2 separate regions of the Homo sapiens genome follow, and region 2 is linked to region 1. A link means that fine-mapping ties the variant in region 1 to the expression of a gene that starts in the linked region. Tissue or cell type: lung. Region 1 holds a variant in brackets; the other region holds the start of a gene. All regions are shown on one strand. Distances are from middle to middle.

Evidence for each region. PIP is the estimated chance that this variant, and not a neighbour inherited with it, causes the effect.
Region 2: CNR1 starts here. The variant in region 1 is fine-mapped to the expression of CNR1 in lung (TOPMed, PIP 0.93).

Annotation. Positions count from the first base shown.
Region 1 is chr6:87,966,930-87,971,464 of GRCh38, forward strand. No RefSeq gene overlaps it. Among named protein-coding and RNA genes, the nearest start is that of SPACA1, 79 kb to the right of the region's middle. The variant G/A (reference allele first, on the strand shown) is at 1,887.
Region 2 is chr6:88,163,968-88,168,502 of GRCh38, forward strand. CNR1 (cannabinoid receptor 1) reads right to left here and starts at 2,380. Exons shown (of 2, transcript NM_016083.6): 1 at 1,836-2,380. RefSeq lists silencers at 2,057-2,736, 2,797-3,236, 3,307-3,506.

The DNA of each region.
Region 1 (4,535 bases):
GGCTAATACCTTGAAAACATGATGGAGACACTGAGCTGATTTGGAGGCACATATGTTAGCTATTGATCAAGGGCATCTTTTGCTCTTAGTTGGGGCCCCTTAAGCCGCTTACTTTCATAGACTAACTTTGACTTCTTTCTTCTTCACATCAGGAGCCCACTTACATCCTAGCCACTGGATTATGTTTAATGGCATTCAAACTAACTTTTTCCAGTATCAGCTTAGATCATCCTTGAAAAGCTGACCCTGCTTTCAGGTCTCCAAAGGATGCTTTTCTTCTGACACTCCACTATTTACTGAACTGATCATTGCCTTCTCCCTCTTCACCTCCTGACTTCTCTTTTTAGGCTAGTCCCATGCAGCAACTTTTGGTTTCTTAAAATACGTAGCCAGTTGAGTATTTTTTTTCTTTTAGCAATCATGGTGTAGTTCCATGATCCTTAATGGAATTTAGCCATTTCTCACTTTTGAAGCATGGCATGGTCTCAAGCTCCTTATGTCTGTGCCCAAGGCACCATCCTACCTTCATTTGTCATCTCCAAATCTAGAGGGTATCATTTTCATCATTCTCACTTCTTATAACCTCAAAGCTTTCCAGTTAGCGCTTGGGCTCTCCCTAGAACCTCATTTCCATGCCCCCTGCATAAGGGTCCTAGAAACCTACCCAGCATCAAAACTTGGCAGTCCCTATGCCTGTCCTTGCCCTGCAAAACCATATTCAGGAATGAGGAGCTGTACCTTAGAGCATTTTACCATTTCACACATGGCACCTTTCTTGAGCTCACTTTGACCCTCATCATAACGAGCCTGGAATGGAAGGCAGTGGGTTTGGGGAAGCTTCACATAGAGGAGTGCTAGCTTTTTCTACATTCAGACAGAACAGGATGAAACTGAAGTGGCTATGCAGATATTTTAGTCTCACTAGAATTCTTGTTCCATTACACAACAACTTTAGGCAGTCAAAATTTCAAATTTGAGAAGGAGGCAAGAGTCTTGTCGTGCAAGGCACTGGTCCATTTTCTGCAGCAGGTTTGGTTCAATTAATTTCTGACATATTCTTTCCTTTGTAAAGGTACAAAGATAACACAGAGAGAGACCCACAGCTTTTTCAAAGGTACAAAAATTTGGGCAATTTGAGGGAAAATACAAGGAAGAGAGGGGAGATTTACTCTACACCTCCACACCCCCAAATAGAGAAAGCCAGAGATGTGTATTATCTGTGTGTGTGTGTGTGTGTAGGTGTGCACATGCATGCATGAACATGCACACATGTGTGTGACTTGTGACTCCAAAGTAATGTAGCAGATTTTCAGACGTGGTTTTTGGAACCTTTCTTATTACATTAATATCTTGGACTGTACATACGTGAATTCCACGCCTGTAAGTGTACCTGCACCCATACACAAAAGCTCACAATATAAGATCCACAGTGCTAACATTACAGATTCTGCAGTTGATGAAAAGCGAGCATTGAGATTTGTGATGTATATGTTTACATCAAGGTTTTGAATTCAGCGACCTGCTGTTTTCACAGTCGCTGCCATTCTCTGCACAGCCTGTTTGGAAATGTTACAGTCCCTGAGAGACCGGCTCCCTCATGAATAGGCAATTAGATGTCTCCTCCCTCCAGGCTGCGAGAGATGCTCCCTCCCTCCTGGAATCTTCTCTACTTTTAGAAAACGTGTGCTTAACTTGTAAATGTAGTTTTCAGTGCTGGTAAGAATATTTTTGTTTTGAATAACAATCGCGTTCTTTTCCACAGCGCGAGGCTCTCTGCTGAGTAGCAAGGAGCCCCTCCCAGCCGGAAGGCTTTTGCGGTGCTAGCAGCGCCTGTCTCAGAGCCCTTCTTTATCAACACTGGGCTGCAGGGCCGGTTTCTGAAGTAC[G/A]TAGTAAACATAATTGTTCTCACATTAAAAAGAAGAGGAAAACAAACAAGGCGCAGATATGTTCCGCAGTTTTCGCAGCACTGCATGGAGCTGTGACACGCAGGCTACCTAGGGGGCCCCCTCCTCCCCGATCTCCCTCTCACTAGGTGGGGAATCCTGGACGGCTGCTGGACTCCTCTGCGTTTCAGTTTCTCCCTCTGAGCCGTGAACCTCCTATGACTGTTGGGTGTATTAAATGAGATAATGTATAAAAATGTTTGGAATAACTACCTCGTGCATATCAGCTCTCCATACTGTTGCTGCCGCAGCTCTTGTAGAAGGTAGGTTTACCGGGAAATGGGCCCTCAACATACAAATTCGAAAATAAATTTAAGCATACATATTCCTCAGAAAATGCAGTCCTTTTCTCCAGATCTTGGCTTGACCTCCTTTTTCTAGCCAGTGCTAGTATTTTTAAAAAATCAGAATTGAGTCAATTTTAAGAAAATCCAATTTAAGTGTCAGAATCTTAGCCTTTCCTAAAACTCTTTACCAGCTCCCTATCATCTATAGGAAAAATAGAGACTCCTTAGTAAGGTATGAAGGGCTATTTGCAGTGTGGCTACCAACTACTTCTTTATCTTCTTCCCATGAGACACTGCCATATGTATTTTATGTGGCAGCAGGAATTAACTGGCCACAGTCCTGCTACGACACTGTATTATTTCATGCCCCTGGGCCTTTGCAGATGCAAATGCATGAAATTCTGTCTCCCCCTCTTTACTTTCTGGGACAACTCTGGCTCCATCTACGTGTGTTTTCTCTAACACTCATGATCCCCTTGATTAAAGTATTGCCTCCATCCTCCATGCTTTGCCCATATGTTTAGTCTTGTACATATTACCTGGTATTGCAATGCATTTGTTTATTAGTTTGTCTTTCCCATTTGACTCTGAGTTCTTTGAGGTGATGGACTAGGTCTTATTGATTTCTGTATTCCAGCACTAAACAAACAGCACAGACTCAGGGACACAAAAAATTGTTTCATGGTTTAATTGAAATAGGGAGTAAATGTTAATATTATTAAGGCAGGCACTGCAGAGATTTTTGTTGCTTTTCTTTTCCTTGCAATAATGAGGTCAGCTCTTGTATTAAAAATATTTTGGAGAACAATGCCCATTTATGTAAATGAAGAGTAGTTGAAACAACAGCAAGAAGTCTGGTGTTTCTAGGATTAATTTCGTTTGATTCAACAAGTGTTGTTCTAAGTGCTGGGGGTAATAATGAAGATGGAATAAGATACATTCTGTTTCCTCAAGGAGCTTTCAATCTGGAAGGGGATAAGGCAAACAGAGTAGAAAAAGGGCAAAATTCGTGCCATTAGAGGTGAACAAAAAAGAGTTCTGGAGGTTTGAAGGGAGAATCAGCCGAATGTAACTGGGGATTAGGAAGAGGTGTTGTGTGGAAGTGGCAATGTTTGCGATTGACCTTGATGGGCTAGGCAGAGATGGGCAAGAAGGATATTCCAGGCAGGAGGGACAGTATGTGTAAAGATCTAGGGGTGACTAAGAGGATATCCACTTGGAAACCATCAACCATCCGCCAGGCTCCATCTTATGCCTAGCATGGGCAAGTAGTTGGAGAAGAGGCTGAAAAACAAGTTTGTGGCTATTTTGCAAAAGGTACTTAGTCCCAGAATGAGGAAATTTGACTTAAGTTAGCAGGCATTGGGGAGCAATCAATACTTTTGAGCAGAAGAGTGATATAAATAGAAGAATGCTAAAGAAATTTTGGATTGCTAGCCTATAGGGATTGCCCGGGAAAAGGAGAACTTCACAGTAGGGATAGGAGAGAGGAGATTGCAAGATTGTAGATGGGAGGTACTAGCAGTGGAAGATAGTATCTGAGAGATCTTGAATTTTCTGAGGCTCACTTCATCTTCTACCCTTTGCAAAACAGAGAGGACATGTGCTCATTTTGATGTGAGGATGAGTAAGAATTAAGAGTCTCATGTGATGCTTGGGTTTAAAGCATGGATAAGGGAAGTCATGGAACCATTCAGAGAATTCAAGAAATCAAGCAGAGGAAGTCAGAGTGTTAGGAATGTTGTAAATTTGGTGTGGGTGATGTCCAGTTTAAGGATCTTCAAGTAAATTGGAAACTTAGGAGACAGGTCAGAGTTAGAGCTTCATACTGACAATAACTGACATCAGGGAATAGATGTTATACTGAGAAAAGGAAGACAGACAGAGGAGAAACCAAGTATAAAACCTTAGATAATACCTACGCTTATTAAAGAGAAAAAACAAACCGATAAGGGAGAACAATGATAGTAATAGAACCAGGATAGCTAGTGCAATCTCATGTAATTCAAGTGTGAGTTTTGAGGAGGAAATCATTCCTGGAGGGGAATTTCAGTTCATTGACTACCTGACAGGTAGTATAAAAACTTGTTTGAATTTCCATAGCTTTTTGGAGTTCATATTCCTTCATGATTATTTGTTTGTATGTCTTTCTCTCCTTCCGGACTGGGAGCTCCTCCAAAGTGGAAAACATGTCTTAGTTGTGTTTTTCCAGCCTTTAGCAGGGTACCTGGAATGTAGCTAGGGCTTAATGATCATTTGTGGAATGAGTAAACAAACAAAGTGATAGAGAAATGAAGACAAGGAA
Region 2 (4,535 bases), 200 kb after region 1:
TGTGAGACCTGGTGTTCATCAGAATTTAAAACTTTACACACTAAATAATAATCACTTATGGCTTATTTAAGGTTCTAGTCATAACATTCTTTTTACATACATATATTAATGTTATTAAAATTCAGGGGCATGAATATCTAATTTGCTTTCCTAACAACGAGTATGCAAGCACAGTAATTTTATTTGTGAAAGGCCAGAATTGGGTATTTCCACCTTGTGGCATCATTGTACCCCCATGGACACTGAGAAACACAATGAGACCTCTCCCCATCAGACACTTGATACATACCTCAGCCAAGAGCGCTCCTCGCCTGGAGTGGGAGACATCTTTGAAACAAAAAGAGTCGGTTTACAGTAAGTTCTCCTGATAAGCTAAAATGGATTAGTTTTTTAAAACCATGTCCCACATCAAGTCTCTTGCCCCACTATGGTAACTGCCATTGTGCCTACAAATAAGTGCCTGTAGTATGCAATGTTTAAAATTCTGGAGGTGCATGTCTTCTGCTCATGTATGGATATAATCTGAAAGTAATTTGTCTCACTTAAGAAACTATAAATGGCCTTTTATTTTTATAAAATTGCTCTTAACTGAGTTAGAGAGCGGGGGAGGGGGAGGAGTACCAGGGAAAAAAAGGACAGAGAAAAATCAATTAGTGTATCTTCCCTTGCAAACTGTCAGTAGGGTAGGATTAGAAAAGCAACACTTTAAATCACATAAAGTCCTATGGGAACCTTAAAGGTTGGTTGCTCTGAGCTTCTCAATATTCTGCAAAATAGATTGATGTCAGTGGTGACCCCACTAATACTCAGTGTCCGCTAAGCTTCCTCTAAGAAATTGCATTTCCCCCATTGTTCAAAAGATATTAACTTGGTAATAAAAATGAGGAGAAGTTATGGGACCCACAGAGATATCTTTCAACACCTTTAAAACCAGTAAATCTGTTCTAATCTCTTATTGGATTACATGCCCGAGGAGGCTTACTATATCAGGAAATCAACAACAAAGGCAAGAATAGCACTTATTTGGAGGAAAATAAAAAAAGATGGGAGGCAAAATGATTAATACGTTACTAAACATTTCTTTTGTTTTTTTATCTGTTCAATTTTAAATATCTGAGAGACAATCTATTAAAATCAGAAACATGCATGTTGCTTTTAAACTTCCAAATGACCAAATGACAGTTTCTCATGTCTATTACAGCAAACATATTTTTATTTGAGAGGTGATCCGTTTATGATTTGTAAGCCTTAACAAGAAATGTCTTTTAAAAATGCAACATTAACTTTAGTCATCTAACAGCTAGTTCTGAGTTAAACGGTTCCATCAACATTCAATTTTAGGTATTAGTTACATGGACATTTGTTTTTCCTCAAAGAGAAGTGGTTCCTGTAGCTTTTTATCAAAAGTTTATTATTTGACATACATCTCTTTATATGACATTTACTATTTTACATTAGTCAGTTTCTAGGCTTGCAGCAGAGATCGATGTATTTCCCTGGGAAGACTTAGCTGCTAACATGGTTTATAGGCATTCAGCACCAACTCAAGCGCCCGTTTTTCAAACATGCACAATTACCCATTTTCTACAAACAGACATCAGTGCATACAGAGCCAGGTGCACACACATTCAATAAATAGTAAATGGTAGAAATCTCCAGAAGTAGAACAGATCACAGTTAACAGGCTGGGGCCATACAGCTAAGTAAACACCGACGCACGATTCGCTCACACGGAATAAGAACTCCACGAAGGACACTTGGGGACCACACTGGTCGTACCCGAGGGGGCGGGAGGCGGAAAAAGTATTTCCAAACGCAACTCTGCCAGGTCTTACCCTTCGCATCCCCTGGTCCTCGGGACAGAAGCTCCCTTGGCACCTCTCGCCCAGCTCAGGGGCTGGTTGTCCGCTAGAACGAAATATCCCCCACTGACTACGGAGAGCTCTGCAGGGAGCCGAGGCCCCCGCCCGGGCCAAGGGAAGGCGCTGGCGCCGCGGGAGACAAGAAGAGGCGGAGGCGGAAAAGAAGTGGAGAAGGAAGGGGTGGCAGAGGGAGTAGCGTGCGGGAGGCGGCGCCGGCGCCGGGCTGCTGGCGAGGCGGGGTGGGGTGGAGTGGGGTGTGCCTCCGGCGGGCGGTCAGCAAGTCAGTCCGTCCGAGCGCCGGCGTCCCGGTCTCCAGCGCCCGCCCGCGACAGCGACCGGGACTGGCGCCCCGCTGCTCCGACCGCCGGCGAGCCTCGCCCCTTCCCAGGCTCTTCACTGGGTCCTCCCGCGAGCCCCGCCTGGCCCGGCGTGGGGCCGCCCGTCTCCGCCAGCCCGGGCGCCCGTCGCCTCGTCCCGCTCGCGCAGTCCCTGCCGCTCCCTCCGCTCGCGCTGTCTCTGGCTCCCTCTCGCTCCAGTCCCATTTATGAAGCGCGGTCCCATCACGTGTTAATGAGCCTTTGTCCTGCCCTGGCAGCGGCGGCGGCACAGACCCCGCCGAGGGAACTGCGCGGGGAGGGACCTGAGCGCAGCGCCCGTAGCCCCAAACTTTGCTTGGGGCGGGGGACCCGCCGCGGCGCCAGCCCTGGGGCCAGAGGGGACAAGCCTCTTCGGCCCGCGTCACCTACTTCTCCTCTTCCTCCTCCTCCTCCGCCGCCGCGCTCCCGGAGGCCCCCGCTGCCATGACCTCGCTGTGCTCCCGGATACCCTCACACCCTGACCAGGCCAAGAAGGGGCTGGTGCATGCGCCGCCCACGACCTCGGGGCCATTAATCACACGCTCCCGGGCAGCGCGCATCGCCAACACCTTCCGCGGGGGTCACGTCTGGGGCAGCGGGCTGAGCCGGAAGGGGAAGGGGAGCGGGAGCCCAGAGGCCGAGGCGCGCCGGGCCCGGGGGTGCGGTCTCGCGCCCCCTCCCTCCGCGCAAGGCCGCTCCCGTGGCAGGCGGCAGCGAGCTGGGCCCGGGGCCGGGCTGAGCTTTGGGACCGCGCTGCGCAGCCCCCGAGCCGTTCGCTACCTGGCTGCGGTCGCGCGGCCACCTGTCCTCCGCCCTCGGGGCGCCGCCCAGCTTCGCGCCAGGCGCCTTCTCCAGCGCCCGCCGCCCTTTCCCGGCGAGACCACTCGGGCGCGCCCCGCCCGCCGGTCCCCGATGCAAACAGTTGGGCTCCGTAGGCGGCTGGCTCCGCGCCTCCCGGCCCGGCGCGCCCCCTCCCCGGCCACCCGGGGCCCCGCTCCTCGCACCTTTTCGCTGGAGGAGGACGCCCCACTCCAGGGCCGGACTGGGGGCTCTGGGACTCGGGGGCGGCAGCGGCGGGCGCCTGGGGAGCCGCGGTGTGCTCAGCAGCCGCGGCAGGAATTAGGGGACATGCTCGTTAATTGTTTCCACTATCAGCCGCCGTCTGCCTCCTGTGTGCACGGATCAAACCTTAATTGGTCTTTACATTTATCATGGTGAATTGCGAACCTCCAAACAAGCCTGGGCCGCCGCTTCTGCCGAGGAGGCGCTCCCCTCCCCTCCGCCCCCGGGGCCCTGCAGGGTGTGCGGCGGCGGTCGTGGTTATTTAGACATCTTTATCTCTCGTGAGTTGGATCGGGAGAGGATCGCACGGTTTCCACCTGACGGAGCCACGTCACGTCGGCCACAAGGGCCCCGTGCTGGGCGCTGGGTTCGGTTCCCGGCCGTCCTCTTGTGGCCGCCTTGGCGTTCATTTTATGACACCTTGCCGGTGTTCCCAGACATCATCCCGCACCGCTCCGTTTTACCGACCTCCAGGTCTTCCCGCCCCTGATCAGACCCCAACAGCAACCGTACTATATCTGGACCCTATATTTGAACTACGTGGTGAGAATCTGTGAAAGCGAGCCTCTCAGGGAAAGAAGGAAGATTGTTGAGTTCAAGGTCCTGGAGGAGGGAAGGCTGTAAAACCGTTTTGGAAACGTCAGGCCAAATCGTACAAAGGCTTCCCGCAGAGCACTAGTGCAGTTTTTGAAAATCCCCCTAGACTGCTTTAGACTAGAAGTATTTCCGTCAAGCAAATGACCATTTGACTCCATTGAGAGAGAGAGTCCACCGCTGAAATGATTAAGTCCTACTAGGTGGGTGGTTAGAAAAGGTTATCAATAAAGTTCTGATGGACCCATCGATAGATGGAAGAATGACTGGGAGATAGATAGTAGATGTGGGATTAGTGCTGAGCCTTAACCCTGCTGCTTGGGGAAGGCTCTACTCACAGGCATTTTTAGCCCACCTCCATGGCAGAGACAGCTCCAGCGCAAGATTCAAAGGGAGGAGGCTTCAACATCTGTTGCTTTTTTCTTTTAGGGGTCGTGGTTGTTAGATTTTCCCTTCACCTCACACCCCTGGCAGTAGGAAATATTTGCAAAAATTTTCTCTCCTTATGACCTCGCAGACTCTGATTTCCCAAGAGGCCAGATGACAATAACTTCAAAGTCTCTCCTCCACCTGGCAGCTCAGTTTCAAATGACTGCTAGTAATTAAAAGAAAGGATCAAGGCAGCGCTTCCTCTGACTGTGATAAGGACATCTTCAGTCAC